Linked DNA regions of Homo sapiens: regions 1, 3, 4 and 5 are each reported to be linked to region 2. Evidence: microRNA targets listed by miRTarBase, many of them from high-throughput screens and not tested one by one. Region 2 holds a microRNA gene; each other region holds the end of a gene's coding sequence.

Region 1 (3,000 bases), not on the chromosome of region 2:
AAAGAAATGGTGGGGTAGGAGGCTGAAATGTACACGGTTGTTTGTAAAGGAATGTGTAACCGTGAAAGTATGTTTTTGTGTTTCACAGCTGGTAATCACCCATTTTCATTGGTAGAGTCTGTCCTTACCCAGAATGGTGAGCTGAATTATATTTAAGGTTCTGACAATATTCCCAGGCTTCAGGGGGGTGTTGCTTTGCTCCTTCTACCTTCCTTCCCACCTCCCCAAGATGCTCTCCCTGACTCAAATTTTCAGAAAAGGTTCAAATGTCCCAGCACTAAATTGTGTAAGTTTATTCAGGGAAGGCAGGAGAGCTCACACGGAGTCCTCTGTCCCCTTGTAGCAATGGTTCTCCAATTTCTTTGAATATTTAACCACAGAAATACATTTTATATCACAATCTTACACATACAGACATAATACATAACTAAGATGGCTTTCACGAAACAATATACTTACACTATAGTGATCACTGATATTTCCTTTTAAAAAAAAATGGCCATAACCAACTAAATTGATTTCACACATACCAGTATGGGCCCAGTTTGAAAAATCCTGTTCTTACAAAGTGGCCCCACATACAAGAAATGCACCCACTCTATAAGGGCTTCTCTCTCTCCCTTTCCTCCTTCCTTTCTTCATCCTTTATAACCAATTCATTTTTAGAGACAGGGTCTATGTTGCGCAGGCTGGCTTTGAATTCCTGGGCTCAAGTGATCCTCCCGCCTCAGCCTCCTGAGTAGGTGGGACTACAGGCGTGCCACTATGCCTGGCTCTGGCTCTTCATTCTTTTTTTCCTTTTTTTTTTTTTTTTTTTGAGGCGGAGTCTCGCTCTGTCGCCCAGGCTGGAGTGCAGTGGCGGGATCTCGGCTCCCTGCAAGCTCCGCCTCCCGGGTTCACGCCATTCTCCTGCCTCAGCCTCCCAAGTAGCTGGGACCACAGGCGCCCGCCACCGCACCCGGCTAATTTTTTGTATTTTTAGTAGAGACGGGGTTTCACCGTGTTAGCCAGGATGGTCTCGATGTCCTGACCTCATGATCCGCCCGCCTCAGCCTCCCAAAGTGCTGGGATTACCGGCGTGAGCCACCACGCCCGGCCTCTTCATTCTTTCAGAAATGTCAACATTAAGTGCTTTTACTGTAATAAAACTTGGGACTTCAATGAGGCAAGAAGGGGCTGCAGTGTTGCCTTTAAATCAGTGGGTCCTCATTCACTGTCTGCACTGGGGAGGGGCAATATGACAGCACAACTGTTCATCTCACTCGCTCCACATCCTTAGAAGTAACACGATTTTTAGATTGGCTTCATGAAAATTAGCTCAGAGACTAAAGTAGCACTACAGAGGAATAAAAAAAATATTTGTTATATAAATAAGGATCTTATTAAAATACTAAGTAAGATACTATGCCACGGTATATATTCATAATTTAAAACCCACCTACTTGGGAAAACTTTGAGGTGCCATCTAATAAAAATGCAGCATGAAAGAATATTATGCCCTTGATAGTCACATAGTGTCTATAATTATGACAATGAATGTTCAGTGAGAAATCAAACGCCAACTGCAAGGGCAAAATATAATAAAAAATAGCTTAAAGTAGCTAGTGCCTTCAGGATAAAATCTGGAAAAGGGCTTTCTTGCTGATCTTTTTTTGAAACTTTGCTGCTCCTGAAGTTTTTACCCTTTAAGGCTCCTCAGTTTATATGAAGCTTGGAGGACAAATAACAGACAGGTTTGAGCCTAACAGATTTGTTTGAATCCCAAATTTACCAATGACTGCTTGTGTGACCTACTAAACTAAGCTCCAGGAGGGCCAGGCCAGGTGTCTTATTCAACCACAAAATCCCAGCGCCCCCAGCATGTGAGGCAAATTTCCTCCATCAGCATAGGAATCGGATGACCTGGGAAAGGGAGTATTGTTAGTTTTCCTAGCGCCAGCTTCAATAGGGATTGGGGTTATTTAAAAATACAGGAGAAAAGTAAGGAGGCACTCAAAAACAAAACACAAAACCCACATTGATGGGGGTATGTCAAAGGTGGGAACAGGAGATAACGGAAAGAGTTCCCAATGGTCAAAGCTGGGATAATTTGAGCAACAAAATAAAGCAGTATTAAATTGTAACCCAAAGTATAAAATATTCATGTGTCCACACTGATAAACATAAATGATCGAACTAATAAAGCGAAAGGGACAACTGTCCTTTGCAGAAGAATTTCAATTAATCATGTAGACCACTCCCAAGAAAGTACACTACAACTCCCCATTCCTTTAGTGTGGGCTGTGCATAGTGATTTCCTTCCAAAGAGCACAGTATGAAATGGGGGAAAAGAGTAACTTTACAATGGAGAAACCTGACAAACACTCCTTCAGCCAGGTGATCAGGTCGTCAACATCAACATCAATAACAGTCATAACCTTTTATTTCATGTCATAAAATGGTGACACTTACTTGTGTTAAAAAAATTTAATAACAATGTAATCATTATATCTCTGCAATCAGCTGAAGTTCTAAGAAAAAATGACAATGTTGAAAGTTGTATCATCATTATTATAAACTTTCATGTTCAGTATATGTAAACTCCAAAGCCAATTTCAAAAGATATTTTTGTGAAATACCATTCTTTAAAAAAAAGGATATTATATATAACTGTATGAATGTTAAATGTTTTACAGTACTGATTTGCTACATTTTATGTATGCTGTAAAACAAATACCATTTTAAAGTATATTGGAATTCGTAACTAAAGTAATAAATAAATGCTTGAAATATACCCAGTAGAAACTTATTTTTATTATCCAATCCTTTTGATAAGAAATGCCTCTAGTGTTATGTACAAACTTGATCTTCTTGGAAACGTGTTGTCCACTGCTTTTCTGTTTCTGTCACAGTAGCTATAAACAGCTGTTTAAGGATATCCTTATCTAAATTTCTGCCTGCAAACAAAACAAAATATGACGTGATTACATTATGCTTATTAAAATGACACAGTTCACCTAT
Region 2 (4,191 bases):
AAGAATGGGCCTGATCTTGACAGGCCTGGGCTGAGCCCTGACTTTTCTCCCTCAGGGCAGAGACACCTGCGGAAGCCACAGGGAAGCCACAGAGAGATGAAGCCGGCCCACAGAGGCAGCTGCCAGCCCTTGATGGCAGCTTGATGGGGCCGGAGAGTCCCCCAGCACAGGAAGAGGAAGCCCCTGTATCACCCCACAAGAAGCCAGCCCCCCAGAAGCGGAGGAGGGCCAAGAAGGCACGGCTGCTGGGCCCCACTGTGATGCTTGGTGGATGCGAGTTCAGCCGCCAGAGACTGCAGGCCTTTGGCCTCAACCCCAAACGGCTGCACTTCCGCCAGCTGGGCCGGCAGCGGAGGAAACAACAGGGGCCCAAGAACAGCTCCTGAGCACCAGGGAGCAGGCAGGGGCCTCAGGCTCCTCTCCTCAAATCAAGCCCTGGACAGGTCTCGCACCCACAAGTACTATCTGCTGCAGAGATCCTCTCATCTGTGGCCAGGCACGCCTGTAATCCCAGCACTTTGGGAGGCCGAGGTGAAAGGATCACTTGAGCCCAGGAATTGGAGACCAGCGTGGGCAACTTAGCGAGACTCCATCTCTACAAAATGTGGTGACACATGCCTGTAGTCCCAGCTACTCAGGAGGCTGGGGAAGGAAGATCACTTAAGGCCATGAGTTTGAGGCTACAGAGAGCTATGATTGCACCACTGCACTCCAGCCTGGGCAACAAAGCAAGACCCTGTCTCTTGAAAAAAAAAAAAAAATTAAAAAACACGTGTAGCTGTGGGTAAGGAAGTCGTCCCATTTTATGGATGTGGAAACTGAGGCTGACTTAAACTTCCCGTGACTTGGAGCTCTCACCTCGAGACACCTCCCAGACCCCACATCCCCTCAGAACGCTGCGCCCAGCCACACCCACGATCAAGTTACACAGCTTTATTGGCCCCCAGCAGCCACAGTTCCCCCAAGGGGGCTTTGGGACAGGGAGGGCCCGGGCGTCCAGTGCAAACTACAGTACGTGAGTCAGGCCCTGAGGGGGGTGCCCGGGGTCCTCCTTCCCTACCCTGCCAGGAGGGCCCCGCTGGTGGGAGACAGGTGTATGGGCTCTGTGGGCTCTGTCCCTGGCTGAATGGCCCCAGACTGGTTGCAGCTGGGCTTGAGGGGCTGACAACAGGAAGTACCATCATCACTGCCAGAGCTCAAGATCCCACACCCGACATGACATAAATAAAAAAATAAATAGTGTTGTATCTTTCCCCTCATCCCCTCCCTTTATAAAAACACAAAGTCCTCAGAGCTGGGGCGTTTGGCCCTGAGGAGCCGCCCTGTGCGAGGGAGCCGGAGTGTGGGCTGGGCGAGCTGGGAGCAGAGGTCGTCCAGGCTGTGGTCCTGAGCATGGCCCTCGGCCAGGGTGAACATGGGGTACCGCTCTGTGGCTGAGGAGGAGCTGAGGACCTGGCGGGAAGAGGGAGACAGGGTCAGCCACAAACAGTGCCAAGCCATATTCCTTAGCCCAGGTTTATTTAGTAGGTGCTTCTCAGGACCACCTCTCCAGGAGAGAGCAGCCAATCAGCACCTTCCATCCCCTGGCCACAGTGATTGGCTCAGCCATGAGCATGTGACCCAGCTCAGCCAAAGACTGACAGTCCTGGGATTTTTGCTGCAAAACCTGCGTTTCCCTTCCAGTGACCACAGGGTGGGTGCCCAGAATGGCTGGTGGCCATCTCTCGCCCCCATAAGGGTAGAGTCCTGGTCGGACAGCAGGGCCAAGAGACAGGGAGGGTTCCCACCACTTGAGCCCCTGGATACAGCTGCCTCCAAGGGATGATGCCTTAACAGTGGGCTTTGGCGTTCCCACCTTTTCAGGGGTGGACATTCTTCACATTTCCCAGGTTAGGACCCCTAGCCTGGAAGCAGCACCCCAGCTCTGCTGGACTCGAGGCCTCTGTTCCTCTTTCACCCCCAGCCCTGCCCAACCGCCCCCCTCACCCCACTCCAGCTTTCCTCTTGCTCACCCTGGTCAGCTCTGAGCAGAGTGTCTCAAACTCCTTCCTGTCTCCAGCATAGAAGCCCACGGTACAGCTTGGGTCCATCTTGGCAAAGGCCATCTTGCGGGGCGAGGTGCAGTGGAAGGACTGGGGCAGACAGACGAGGAAGGCTCAGAGGCTGGGCTGCCCACCCGCCATGGCCCCAACCACACACTGGGGCTCCCACTCACCTCCAGGGGGAAGTCGGCCTGGCTGACATCCACAGTGGGCTGGCAGTAGTGAGGGTCCAGGTACAGCAGGAAGTCATCTGCAGGGGGTGCAGGTGTGAGTGGGGGTGCGGTGGGGGGTGGGAGGAGTGAGGAGGGGGTGGGCCTACCTTGGTAGCCAATGAAGTACAGTGAGTGTCGCGGTTTCCCACCCATGATGCCCAGGCACAGCTCGCAACGCAGGAGTTCCTGCAGGGAGGAGGGTAGGCAGGTGCTGTCAGGCAGCCACTCAACAAACGCTTGGCAAACACCTCCTCTGTGAGAACCCAGCCTCTGGAGGGCAGCAGTGATCAAGACCACAAAACCCTTGCCCTCAGGAGCTGACATCCTAGTGTGAGAGACTAACAAGGAAGATGATTACATGAATTTTTTTTTTTTTTTTTTTTTTGAGACGGAGTCTCACTCTGTCACCCAGCCTGGAGTGCAGTGGCCCAATTGGCTCACCGCAACCTCCGCCTCCTAAGTTCAAGCGATTCTCCTGCCTCAGCTTCTCAAGTAGCTGGGATTACAGGCACCCGCCACCACACCCGGGTTAATTTTTTGTATTTTTAGTAAAAATGGGGTTTCACCATGTTAGCCAGGCTGGTCTGGAACTCCTCCTAACCTCAGGTGATCTGCCCGTCTCGGCCTCCTAAAGTGCTGGGATTACAGGCTGGAGTGCAGTAGCACGATCTTGGCTCACCGAAACCTCCATCTCCTGGGTTCAAGCAGTTCTCCTGCCTCAGCCTCCCGAGCAGCTGGGATTACAGGCGCCCGCCACCACGCCCAGCTAATTTTTGTATTTTTAGTAGAGACGAGGTTTCACCATGTTGGCCAGACTGGTCTTGGACTCCTGACCTCAGGTGATCCACCTGCCTCCCAAAGTGCTGGGATTACAGGCGTGGGCCACCACGCCCAGCCAATTACATGATTTATCTCATGTGTTAGAGGTGATAACTATATGGAAAAGAATAAAAGAGGGAAGGGAGCCTTGTGATTTTAAGTAAAGAGGTCAAACATTACAGCTCTTTTAGAATTTGTCTCAGGTTTTCTGGTTCTCACTGGAAAACCCCCCACGCAAAAAATATTTTAAAACAGGAGCCAAGCAGTGGCTCATGTCCATAATCTCAGTACTTTGGGAGGCCGAAGCGGGAGGATCACGAGGTCAGGAGATCGAGACCATCCTGATTAACACAATGAAACCCCATCTCCATTAAAAATACAAAAATTAGCCAGGAGTGGTGGCGGACGCCTGTAGTCCCAGCTACTCGGGAGGCTGAGGCAGGAGAATGGCATGAACCCAGGAGGTGGAGCTTGCAGTGAGCTGAGATCATGCCACTGCACTCCAGCCTGAGTGACAGAGCAAGACTCCGTCTCAAAAAAAAAAAAAAAAAAAAAGCCACATGCATCACTGCTGAAAGAGTGCTCCAAGCAGCAGGGGCAGCAAGCGCAAAGGCCCTGAGGTGGGAGTGTCTGAAATAGGTGAGGAGGCCCCTGTGGCTGCAGCAGAGTGTGGGAGGAGGATATGAGGTCAAGGTGGGGGATATCCCGACATCAAGAAGGTGGTGTGGACAAATAGTGCCGGGCTCTGTGGGTCACTGGGAAAACTGGCTTTTATTCGGATGCAAATACATAGGGGACTTTCCAGCCTCAGGGTCTCTGTCTTGCTGTTCCTTTTGCCTGGAGCACTTCTCCTCTGGCTCCTCATTTGCCTGGTGGCTGCAGAGGCGCTTTTCTAGGCTCTGCTGCTACCCTCATCTGCCCTTCATTGGGTTACTGTTTTTTTAAAGTTGTGTAGAGGCTGGGTGCAGTGGCTCATGCCTGTAATCCCAACGCTTTGGGAGACCGAGGTGGGTGGATCACCTGAGGTCGGGAGTTCAAGACCAGCCTGGCCAACATGGGAAAACCCCATCTCTGCTAAAAATACAAAAATTAGCCGGGCGTGGTGGCATACACCTGTA
Region 3 (3,000 bases), not on the chromosome of region 2:
TCCAAGATCCAGGGGGCAGGTTCTCAAGCAGGAAGCCTCAGGCACTCTGGCTCTGTGGGGACCTCCCTTGGGCATCTGCTTGAGAATCTGGGGAAGGGACATTATCAGGGCAGGTCCTTTCTGCAGGCGGTGTCCTGCTGGGAGCTCAGCCTAACCAAGGCCTGGTCCCTGTGCTCTTGACCTTCATCTCAAGGTCAAGGAGAGGGCACTTGACCCAACTCTGCCAGCGAGGCAAAGTAATGGTGATTCAAGTAGTGTGGTTCCAGGAGGGAAGGTAGGGGGCAGACAAGAGTGAGTGCACTAAAGAGTCCTGGGCAGTGTCTGCTGGGTCCCAGGCAGTGGCCCAAGCTTATGAAGGGGTTGGAGAAGGGGCTGAACCACCAGCTGACAAGTCCTGGAGAGAGGGTGGCCCAGGTGAGCAGGAAGCATCATGCCTCTGCCTCATCCTGGAGGTCCTGGAGTCAGCCCAGTTCTCTTCCCATCTTTACACTCAATTCCAGTACAGAACTCAGAGCCCGCTCAGCCAGGACCTGCTCGAAAACCAGGCAGTTCCTAGAAGCATGGGGAGAAGAGGCTGACTTTGATCTTGGAAAATGAAGAGGATCTTGTCTCCAACTCCTTTCTCCCTTCCTATACCCATGCCTCATCCCCAGAGCACTTGCCAATGTGCAATACATAGCCAGGAGTCTGAATAAATAGTCAAAGTCTCCCAAATACTGTGCTCTGGGAGAGGAGACAGGCAGGTGCGGAAATCCAGGCGGCATCAAAGGAAAAGCCTGGTAGAAGAGCCACCTGGGGAAGCCTTTCCTGGCCCAAAGCCGGGCTTGGAAGGGCAGCGAGAAGTCCTGCCCACCAGACTCGGAAAGCTTTGGGGGCAGGAGGGCTGCTGGGGCCTGACTCCTGCCAGCCAGTCTGGAGGACGAGGGTCCTCACTATGGCACCCGGCTTCCGGACGCAAACCTTGTACAAGGAGGGAGGTGACTTGGTGAGAACTGGGAGTGGCCAGCTGCCCCTGCTCAGGGTACACCTGCTCCAGCCCTGGGAACAGCTCAGGCAGGGGTCAGAGAAGGCCCTGCACCTCCCTCAGCCCGCAGCGGGTGGAGGGGTACACAGAGGCACAGACATGGCCCTCCTGGAACTGGCAGGACCCAGGGCCTTTAAGCTCAGCTACCCCTGGCCCCAGAGAGGCTTCCTCGGGCCCCACTTGCCCTTTGTGGGACTCACTCAACCCAACCCTGGGTTGGGACCTGGAAGCCGAGGGAATGACAACTCTTCTGAAGCAATGGGTTCCGACCCTGGGCTCAGAATCAAGGTCCTTTTCTTTTCGGACAGGAGGGCCTCTGGGGGAACCTCCAGAAAAACCAGCTCCCCCTCTTCCTTCTCCCTCCCTGGGCAGAAAGCAGGGGCAGGAGGCTCAAAGCTTCATCCTTACTCAGCAGCATTTGGTTTCCAAGATTTCTGTGTAGGGAACGGGTTCAGAACCCTCTAAGTGAGGCACGGAGGACTCCCTCCCAGTTGGGAGGACCTAGGAGCCAGGGCTGGGGGATGGGAACAGGAGGCAAAGGCCAAGCTTGACCTCCAGGGGCCTTGCTGAGCCAGTCTCCTCATCTGTCTCCCAGGTTCAGGGGAGCAGAGGCAAGCGGGGAGAGGAGGTGGCTCAGGATAAGGCACCCCAACAGAGAAGGGCAGGGAGAGTAATGGAGAGAGGAATCATGAAGCAAGACACAGTCCCACTCTGGGAAGGAGGTGGAAGGAGACAGGCAGAGAGGTAGAGACAGAGAAGGAGGGGCTGGGAGACCTGGAGGCCTGAGAGACCCTCACTCCCTAACACACACACACACACACACACACACACACACACACACACACACACACGGAGAAGATGCCTGGGGACTTGGGCCCACATTCACACCGACCGACTACAGACATCTGTGGGTGAGACAGACGGCAGGACTCAGCTTTCAGTGTCGCCTTCCCTGTGGAGCAGCCGAAGTGCCCCGCTCAGAAGCGGTTTCTGGCCCATTGGCCAAGCACCTCCCCTGAGTGGAGCCCAGGAGAAGACCAGAAGCAGGAACTGAGGCTGGGGCGGCAGAGCCGAGGCAGGGAGGGGCCCCTGCCAGCCTCCCAGTGCCAGAAACGGCCCTGGCCCAGGAAGGACAACTTCCCGAGCTCCAGCCCTCCTCAGTATCCTGGGCAAAGAGGGCAGAGTGCAGGGCAGGTGGGGAGCTGGGCGTGGCGGCAGAAGGAGCACGGCACAGTGTGTCCCCAGTGGGCATGGCCTGGGTCTCGGGCCGATCCTGTGGCTTCCCCTCAGGCTGGGTTCCTACAGGTTTCTATGTGTCCCGGGAGCCAGGGCACAGGGTCGGGAGGCTTCTCTCCGGAACATGGGCCTCTTGCCGCCGGGCTACTTTGAGTCTTGGAGCTCCTTGGCTTTCTGCAGGATCTGGCAGACATCTGTGATGGGGTAGTCCTGGGCACAGGAAAAGGCCAACAGTTGCCTCTGAAGCCACTTCACCCCTGCCACACCCACACCCTCCCTGCTGGGACCCGTTGCCATGCTGGATCCTGGGCCTCAGGGGCAGGAGCACAGAACACCAGGCATCCCACACTCCCCAACCCCCAGACCCCTGCATGCAGCTGACGCTACACCATGCAGCACCAACTCAACGATCCAAACACAACCACTCCCAGGCTCTTGCGGCCCTTTCCTCAGGACCAGACCGTGCTGCCTCAGCTCTCCCACTACTGCCACTGAACCCGAGCTCCCTCGTGTGGAGCCAGTAGGACTGGGCCAGTGTCTGAGCATCAGCGCGAAGTCCCAACAGCCCTGTGAGTGGCCACTGTGATTCTGCACTTTTTCCAGATCTGGTCCATGAAGTTAGGGAAAAGCAACTCTAGGCTGGGCTTGGTGGCTCACACCTGTAATCTCAGCACTTTGGGAGGCTGAGGTGGGCGGATCACCTGAGGTCAGGAGTTCGAGACCAGCCTGACCAAGATGGT
Region 4 (3,000 bases), not on the chromosome of region 2:
CTGAGAGGCAGAGGACCTCAAGCACCCAGAGAAAAGTTTTAAGAGTCAGGGGAAATACTCCTTCTCAGGGGCAGTGTTCCAGCCGGAGCCCCGCTAACACAGGGGCACTACTTTCTTCTTGATGTTGTCCAGCAGGCACTGTGTGGGCTGGAGGGGGCTGACGTCATCCTTTGCATGGGCGATGGCACTTGGTGCTGGCCACTGCACGGTGCTAAAGTGAGCTTTGCGATTGGCTTCTCCCTGAGCAGGACCAGGGACAGCCAAACTATATACGCCCAGAAAACTTTGGTTTTGACCTGGGCAGGCGGCTGCACCCTGAGTAAGGGTGCATGAGCTGCCATGAGGGTCAGGGGTTCCTGGCAATCAGGTTTCTTGGATGCAGGGTGGCCCCCAGTGGGTGGGCACTGAGTTGTGAGGCTGCAGGGTGTGGAGTGACTAGGGTGAACCATGGTTGGAGGTGGCCCGTGGGAAGCTGGGGCAGCAGGAGCCAAGCAGCCAGGCTGAGCTGGCAGCTGATGAAGGCCTCAGAGAAGCTCTCAGCGCATGGCTGGCTGGTCCAACACCAAAACTTTCAAAGCATTTGCCTTTCTGGCAGGGCCTGGAGCAGGGCTGTGGCTGGGCCGGGAGAGGCCTCAGTGCGCAGGGGAATAGAAGCCCCAGATCTGCATCCAGAGGCGATTTTCCCAGGCTCCTTCCTCCCACACTGTGGCTCCCTCCCTCGGTTCTGGAGCTTAATCAGGCCCTTCCAGCCAAGTCCTCATGGCTGCACGACTCAGCCCTGAGCTGGGCTGCTCCTGTGTGGGGAGACAAAAACCAGGGCAGAACCTAGGACAAAGGCTCATTAGGGGCAGCCCAAGTCCCCTCCCACCAAGGATGGCTCCCAGTCTACCAGCTGCCAGAAAGGGCCATTGAGCTAGGAGGCCTGAACTGCCCAAATTTCTATTTGAGCCTTCCTTTCCTGGTCTGGTCTAATCCAACTCAGGAGAGGCTTCAGGAAATGGGGAAGACACAGCAAAATGGCAAGTAGTGGCAAACCACACTAGAACTGGTGACTGCACTAGGTATAGTGTGGGAGGAGCTGGTGTCTCCCTTGGCCCAGCCCAACTCCCCTCTGCCTGTGGATTGGATTCAGCCTCCTCCCCCACTCAACCTTTAGCTAGACTTGCTGACAGGAACAAAACAGACTGGTTTGAGTTTCGCCTCTTTTCATTTCCTTTGCCCTCCCTCTGAAAGTGGTTTTAATGAGCAGTGAGATGGCTAAAAGGGCTGGGCGTGGTGGCTCACATCTGTAATCCCAGCACTTTGGGAGGCCAAGGTGGGAGGATCGCCTGAGCCCGGGAGTTTGAGACCAGCCTGGGCAACACAGTGAGGCCCCATCTCTACAAAAAATCAGAAAAGTTAGCTGGGTATGGTGGTGCATGCCCATGGTCCCAGCTACTCTGGAGGCTAAGGTGGGAGGATTGCTTGAGCCCAGGAGTCAAGACTGCATTGAGTTGTGATTGCGCCACTGCATTCCAGCCTGGGTGACAGAGTGAGACCATGTCTCTTAAAACGAAAAGAATAATGGCTAAAAGACAATCAGGGAGTAAAGCATCTGGAGAATTAAATGGTCTCTCCCCAGTGGAACCATAGCACCTGGGCCTGGCTGCCCAAGGAGCCAGGGGCCACAGCATGAAGGGCAGAGCTGTGGCTCCAGCAGCACCAGGCCTCACCTCCTGCCTGTCTTATCTCAGGGTCCTGGAGCATCCAGATGGAGAGGGGCAATGCCCTGGTGGTGCTGCGCAGCCTGCTCTGGCCGGGCCTCACCTTCTACCATGCTCCCCGCACCAAGAACTATGGCTACGTCTACGTGGGCACTGGCGAGAAGAACATGGACTTGCCCTTCATGCTATAGAATGGGAGCCAGCCTGGATGTTTTTAAACAGAGTCTAAACATGATTTTCTTAAGCTTCAGTGAACTTGGCCTGCCTGTTCTGTCCTATCTTCTTAACTCCACCTCCGTCTGGTTCCAGATTCTGAAAGGCCCACTGAGCCAGGGAGCTCATTTCTAAACCAAGTGGCAGAGGGGTTGGAATGTGCTAATGAAAGAGATTCTAGACAACGATGGGTGGAAATGGCTGTGGGAGAAGGTGACAACCAGGGCCCCTTTGAGGAACGCAGTTTCTTGGATTCACACGAGAGCGGCAAGTGTGTCAGGCAGCCCACCTTGGCTCCCTGCAGCTCTCCCACAGTAAGGAGCTCACAGCTGTCATGAAGAGGATGGGACCTGTTTGGCCCATGAATTCAATTGACTCATTGGCCCCATCACAAGAGATCAGTGACTCAATGCTCAGCACCCAGCTGGCAATGTGCCCAGGACCCCCTGCACTTCCCAAGCAGTGAGCGCACACCCAATGGGTAAGCCCATGAACCCAGTTTATGACACTGCGTTGGGCAAAACTCCTGTCCCCAGCACTGAGCATGGCCTAAGCCCCATAGCAGCTGGCAAGGGACCCAACTGCCCTGCCTGCCTCTAGCTCCCAGCATTGCTACTGTGCAGGCCAAGGGTACTGAAGTTAGTCCCACTGTCCCCTGTCCATGCATGTTGGAGGGACCAGGCCATCGTGGTGGGGTGGGACAGGAGTATAGTTGTGGCCAAGGGCTTGTGAGTGGGCCTCCTACTCCCCAGCACAGGTGCAGGAGGAACTCTGGAAGCACTGCTCTCTGTCAGTGATACAGCTTCCAAGGTGTTCTTGAGTAGCAGACATTGTCCCTCAGAAGGGGTGACCCCACGGGCATGCGCACCCTGTTCCAGCGGGGGCCTTTTTTGTAGATGGGCTTGACGGAGCCAGGAGCCCAGCGCGTCAGGTACCTGTGGAGGGAGAACAAAGAGGTGCCTGTGAGGGCTGGGGGCCCAAGCTGGACGTGGGAGAGTGGAGCACTACCTCCTCAGGCCAGGCCACGGTTGGGCAAGCAAATCCTTTCACCAGTTTCCCTTTCCTGAAGTGCAGGGATTTTCCT
Region 5 (3,000 bases), not on the chromosome of region 2:
GGAGTGCTGTCCCAGCCCCAGAGGAAGAGTCCTTTGAGGTCTGGTTGGAACAGGCCACGGAGATAGTCAAAGAGTGGCCAGTAACAGAGGCAGAAAAGAAAAGGTGGCTGGCGGAAAGCCTGCGGGGCCCTGCCCTGGACCTCATGCACATAGTGCAGGCAGACAACCCGTCCATCAGTGTAGAAGAGTGTTTGGAGGCCTTTAAGCAAGTGTTTGGGAGCCTAGAGAGCCGCAGGACAGCCCAGGTGAGGTATCTGAAGACCTATCAGGAGGAAGGAGAGAAGGTCTCAGCCTATGTGTTACGGCTAGAAACCCTGCTCCGGAGAGCGGTGGAGAAACGCGCCATCCCTCGGCGTATTGCGGACCAGGTCCGCCTGGAGCAGGTCATGGCTGGGGCCACTCTTAACCAGATGCTGTGGTGCCGGCTTAGGGAGCTGAAGGATCAGGGCCCGCCCCCCAGCTTCCTTGAGCTAATGAAGGTAATACGGGAAGAAGAGGAGGAAGAGGCCTCCTTTGAGAATGAGAGTATCGAAGAGCCAGAGGAACGAGATGGCTATGGCCGCTGGAATCATGAGGGAGACGACTGAAAACCACCTGGGGGCAGGACCCACAGCCAGTGGGCTAAGACCTTTAAAAAATTTTTTTCTTTAATGTATGGGACTGAAATCAAACCATGAAAGCCAATTATTGACCTTCCTTCCTTCCTTCCTTCCCTCCCTTCCTCCTTCTCTCCTTCTCTCCTCCTCTCTCCTCTCCTCTCCTCTCTTTCCTTCCTTCCTTCCTTTTTTCTTTTTCTCTTTCTTCTTTATTTCTTGGGTCTCACTCTCATCACCCAGGCTAGAGTGCAGTGGCACAAAAATCTCGGCTCACTGCAGCCTTGACTTCCCAGGCTCAGGCTCAGGTGATCCTCACACCTTAGCCTCCCAAGTACCTGGGACTACAGGCACGCACCACCATGCCTAGCTATTCTTTTGTATTTTTGGTAGAGACAGGGTTTTGCTGTGTTGCTCAGGCTGGTCTGGAACCCCTAGGCTCAAATGATGTGCCCAACTCGGCCTCCCAAAGTGCTGGGATTACAGGCATGAACCGCCATGCCTGGCCCTTGATTTTTCTTTTTAAGAAAAAAATATCTAGGAGTTTCTTAGACCCTATGTAGATTATTAATGAACAAAAGATTAAACTCCAAATATTAAATAGTAAGCCTGAAGGAATCTGAAACACTTGTACTTCCAATTTTCTTTAAATAATCCCAAATAGACCAGAATTGGCCCATACCATAGAAGAAAGAATTGGCAGTCAAAAAAAAAAATACCTTTTGTAATGTTTGAAAAATAAAGCTGTTTGACTTGTCAGGTGTTTTCCTTTCTCAAATCAGCAAATTCTCTCTGAGTGCCTGGCTTTGTGAGACACTGTACAAGGAGTTACAAGACTACAGCTATAACCTGCAGTTGAGCAGTTATAAACCTACAAAATGGGCCCTGCCCTCAGAGAGGTTCCAGTCTAGATGAGGAGCTGATCTAGACAGGTAAAAGGCTAACTAACCCTTTGTGTAAATAAGTTCATCACCCCAGTAAAAGTGTCATCACCCAGTGAATAGGACCACCTCTGCCTGCAGATTTTTGTTGTTGTTGTTGTCATTGTTGTTGTTGTTTTAACCTGGGAAGTGTTCTTCCTGCCTTTCTGCTAGGTGTCAGATAGATGGTCCCAGAGCTAGGTGCTGTGTCAGGCCCTGAAGACACAGATGACTCAACCTAAGCTTTACTTTCCAGAGGTCCACAGCCTGAGAGGTGTCCCCAAAGAAAGGGGGACATGAGGGGACTGCATGCTTGAGAGCAGGGTTGTTTAGGGCAGGTTTGGATTTAGTGAGCAGGCTGGTTTGCTTAGAGAAGGCTTTTAGTGGCAACAAAGGATGAAGAGGAGAGAAAAGGAACTCACATTTATTGAGGGCCTACTGTGTGCAAAGTGTTTCATGTATATCTCATTGAATGTATACAGCCACCCTGTTGTGGTATAATTTTGCTCTTTATAAAGAGAAAGACCGAAGCTCAGATGAGTTAAGTGGTCTCCTCAACACCAAAATGCCAAGAAGTGATGGAGCCTAGACAGAAGCCCAGAACTTTCTGACTCACACTAGTCCATCCTCTACCATCACGATGACTTTCAAATTGTGCTCTGCAGTTCTGCAGATTTTCTAGCAGTGCCATCTCCAAAATGTGTTTTAAACTCTTTATTTTTTTAATTATTATTAGTATTATTTTGAGACTGAGTCTTGCTCTATCACCCAGGCTGGAGTGCAGTGGTGCAATCTCAGCTCACTGCAACCTCCGCCTCCCAGGTTCAAGCGATTTCGTGCCTCAGCCTCCCGAGTAGCTGGGATTACAGGCACCCACCACCACGCCCAGCTAATTTTTGTATTTTTAGTAGAAATGGGGTTTCACCATGTTGGCCAGGCTGGTCTCGAACTCCTGACCTCAAGTGATCCACTCACCTCGGCCTCCCAAAGTGCTGGGATTACAGGTGTGAGCCACCATGCCTGGGCTAAACTCTTTAAGTCTCTAGTAAATGCAGCTAGATTCAAATGGGCTGATAACCAAATTTTAACACATCAGCATTCACCACCAGGTTTACTTTTATTTTCAGATTGGCTCATTTTGTGCAGACCTTAGAGCAAAGTTTCCTTTATGGTATCTGTGTACGTATCCAAACTTCTTTTAATTGTTCACAGATTTTAAAAGCGGTAGCACCACATGGTTGTGTAGATCAGACCTGTGTATTTAGATCAGACCTGTGTATCACGTAAGTGTGTGAGTGCAGTGCAGATGAGCACCATTTAGTTATATGTGCTAGGCAAATCTCCAACACAGTTGATGTGTAGTCTTGTGGTAGATTTGTGCATACTGTAAGCAAATTGCTTAGCTTCTCTAGACATCAGTTTCCACATCTGAAAAATAAGAAGATGAGAGTACACGGTTGTTATGAACAAATGACTTAATGCTTTTT

The links. Region 2 holds the annotated microRNA hsa-miR-1238-5p (GUGAGUGGGAGCCCCAGUGUGUG, at 2,193-2,215, opposite strand). A microRNA usually pairs through its seed, bases 2 to 8, with sites in the 3' UTR of a target mRNA and lowers its output. Matches are read on the target gene's strand: a 7mer-m8 pairs with bases 2 to 8, a 7mer-A1 pairs with bases 2 to 7 and ends in A, and an 8mer does both.
Region 1: miRTarBase lists ZNG1A as a target of hsa-miR-1238-5p. The part of its 3' UTR that is shown has no 7-base or 8-base seed match.
Region 3: the mRNA of TBC1D13 is a reported target of hsa-miR-1238-5p. Seed matches in the 3' UTR shown: 7mer-m8 at 2,041-2,047.
Region 4: the mRNA of MRPS18A is a reported target of hsa-miR-1238-5p. Seed matches in the 3' UTR shown: 7mer-m8 at 2,646-2,652.
Region 5: the mRNA of PNMA2 is a reported target of hsa-miR-1238-5p. Seed matches in the 3' UTR shown: 7mer-m8 at 2,481-2,487.

The regions. Positions count from the first base shown.
Region 1 is chr9:118,638-121,637 of GRCh38, forward strand. It overlaps ZNG1A (Zn regulated GTPase metalloprotein activator 1A), which reads right to left. Exons shown (of 15, transcript NM_018491.5): 15 at 2,200-2,936. The coding sequence ends at 2,830. Among named protein-coding and RNA genes, the nearest start is that of FOXD4, 1.7 kb to the left of the region's middle.
Region 2 is chr19:10,550,146-10,554,336 of GRCh38, reverse strand. It overlaps MIR1238 (microRNA 1238), which reads right to left and starts at 2,215; the gene lies at 2,133-2,215. ATG4D (autophagy related 4D cysteine peptidase) reads right to left here. Exons shown (of 10, transcript NM_032885.6): 7 at 2,362-2,440; 8 at 2,216-2,292; 9 at 2,013-2,132; 10 at 919-1,452. The coding sequence ends at 1,270. It overlaps KRI1 (KRI1 homolog), which reads left to right. Exons shown (of 19, transcript NM_023008.5): 19 at 56-1,252. The coding sequence ends at 386. It also overlaps the pseudogene RNU7-140P. RefSeq lists enhancers at 18-67, 88-257.
Region 3 is chr9:128,807,284-128,810,283 of GRCh38, reverse strand. TBC1D13 (TBC1 domain family member 13) reads right to left here. Exons shown (of 12, transcript NM_018201.5): 12 at 1-2,470. The coding sequence ends at 2,405. Among named protein-coding and RNA genes, the nearest start is that of ENDOG, 9.7 kb to the left of the region's middle.
Region 4 is chr6:43,669,056-43,672,055 of GRCh38, forward strand. It overlaps MRPS18A (mitochondrial ribosomal protein S18A), which reads right to left. Exons shown (of 6, transcript NM_018135.4): 6 at 2,147-2,851. The coding sequence ends at 2,707. RSPH9 (radial spoke head component 9) reads left to right here. Exons shown (of 5, transcript NM_152732.5): 5 at 1,734-3,000. The coding sequence ends at 1,894. Among named protein-coding and RNA genes, the nearest start is that of MRPS18A, 17 kb to the right of the region's middle. RefSeq lists a silencer at 1,006-1,245 and an enhancer at 2,438-3,000.
Region 5 is chr8:26,505,248-26,508,247 of GRCh38, reverse strand. It overlaps PNMA2 (PNMA family member 2), which reads left to right. Exons shown (of 3, transcript NM_007257.6): 3 at 1-3,000. The coding sequence ends at 587. Among named protein-coding and RNA genes, the nearest start is that of PNMA2, 7.1 kb to the left of the region's middle.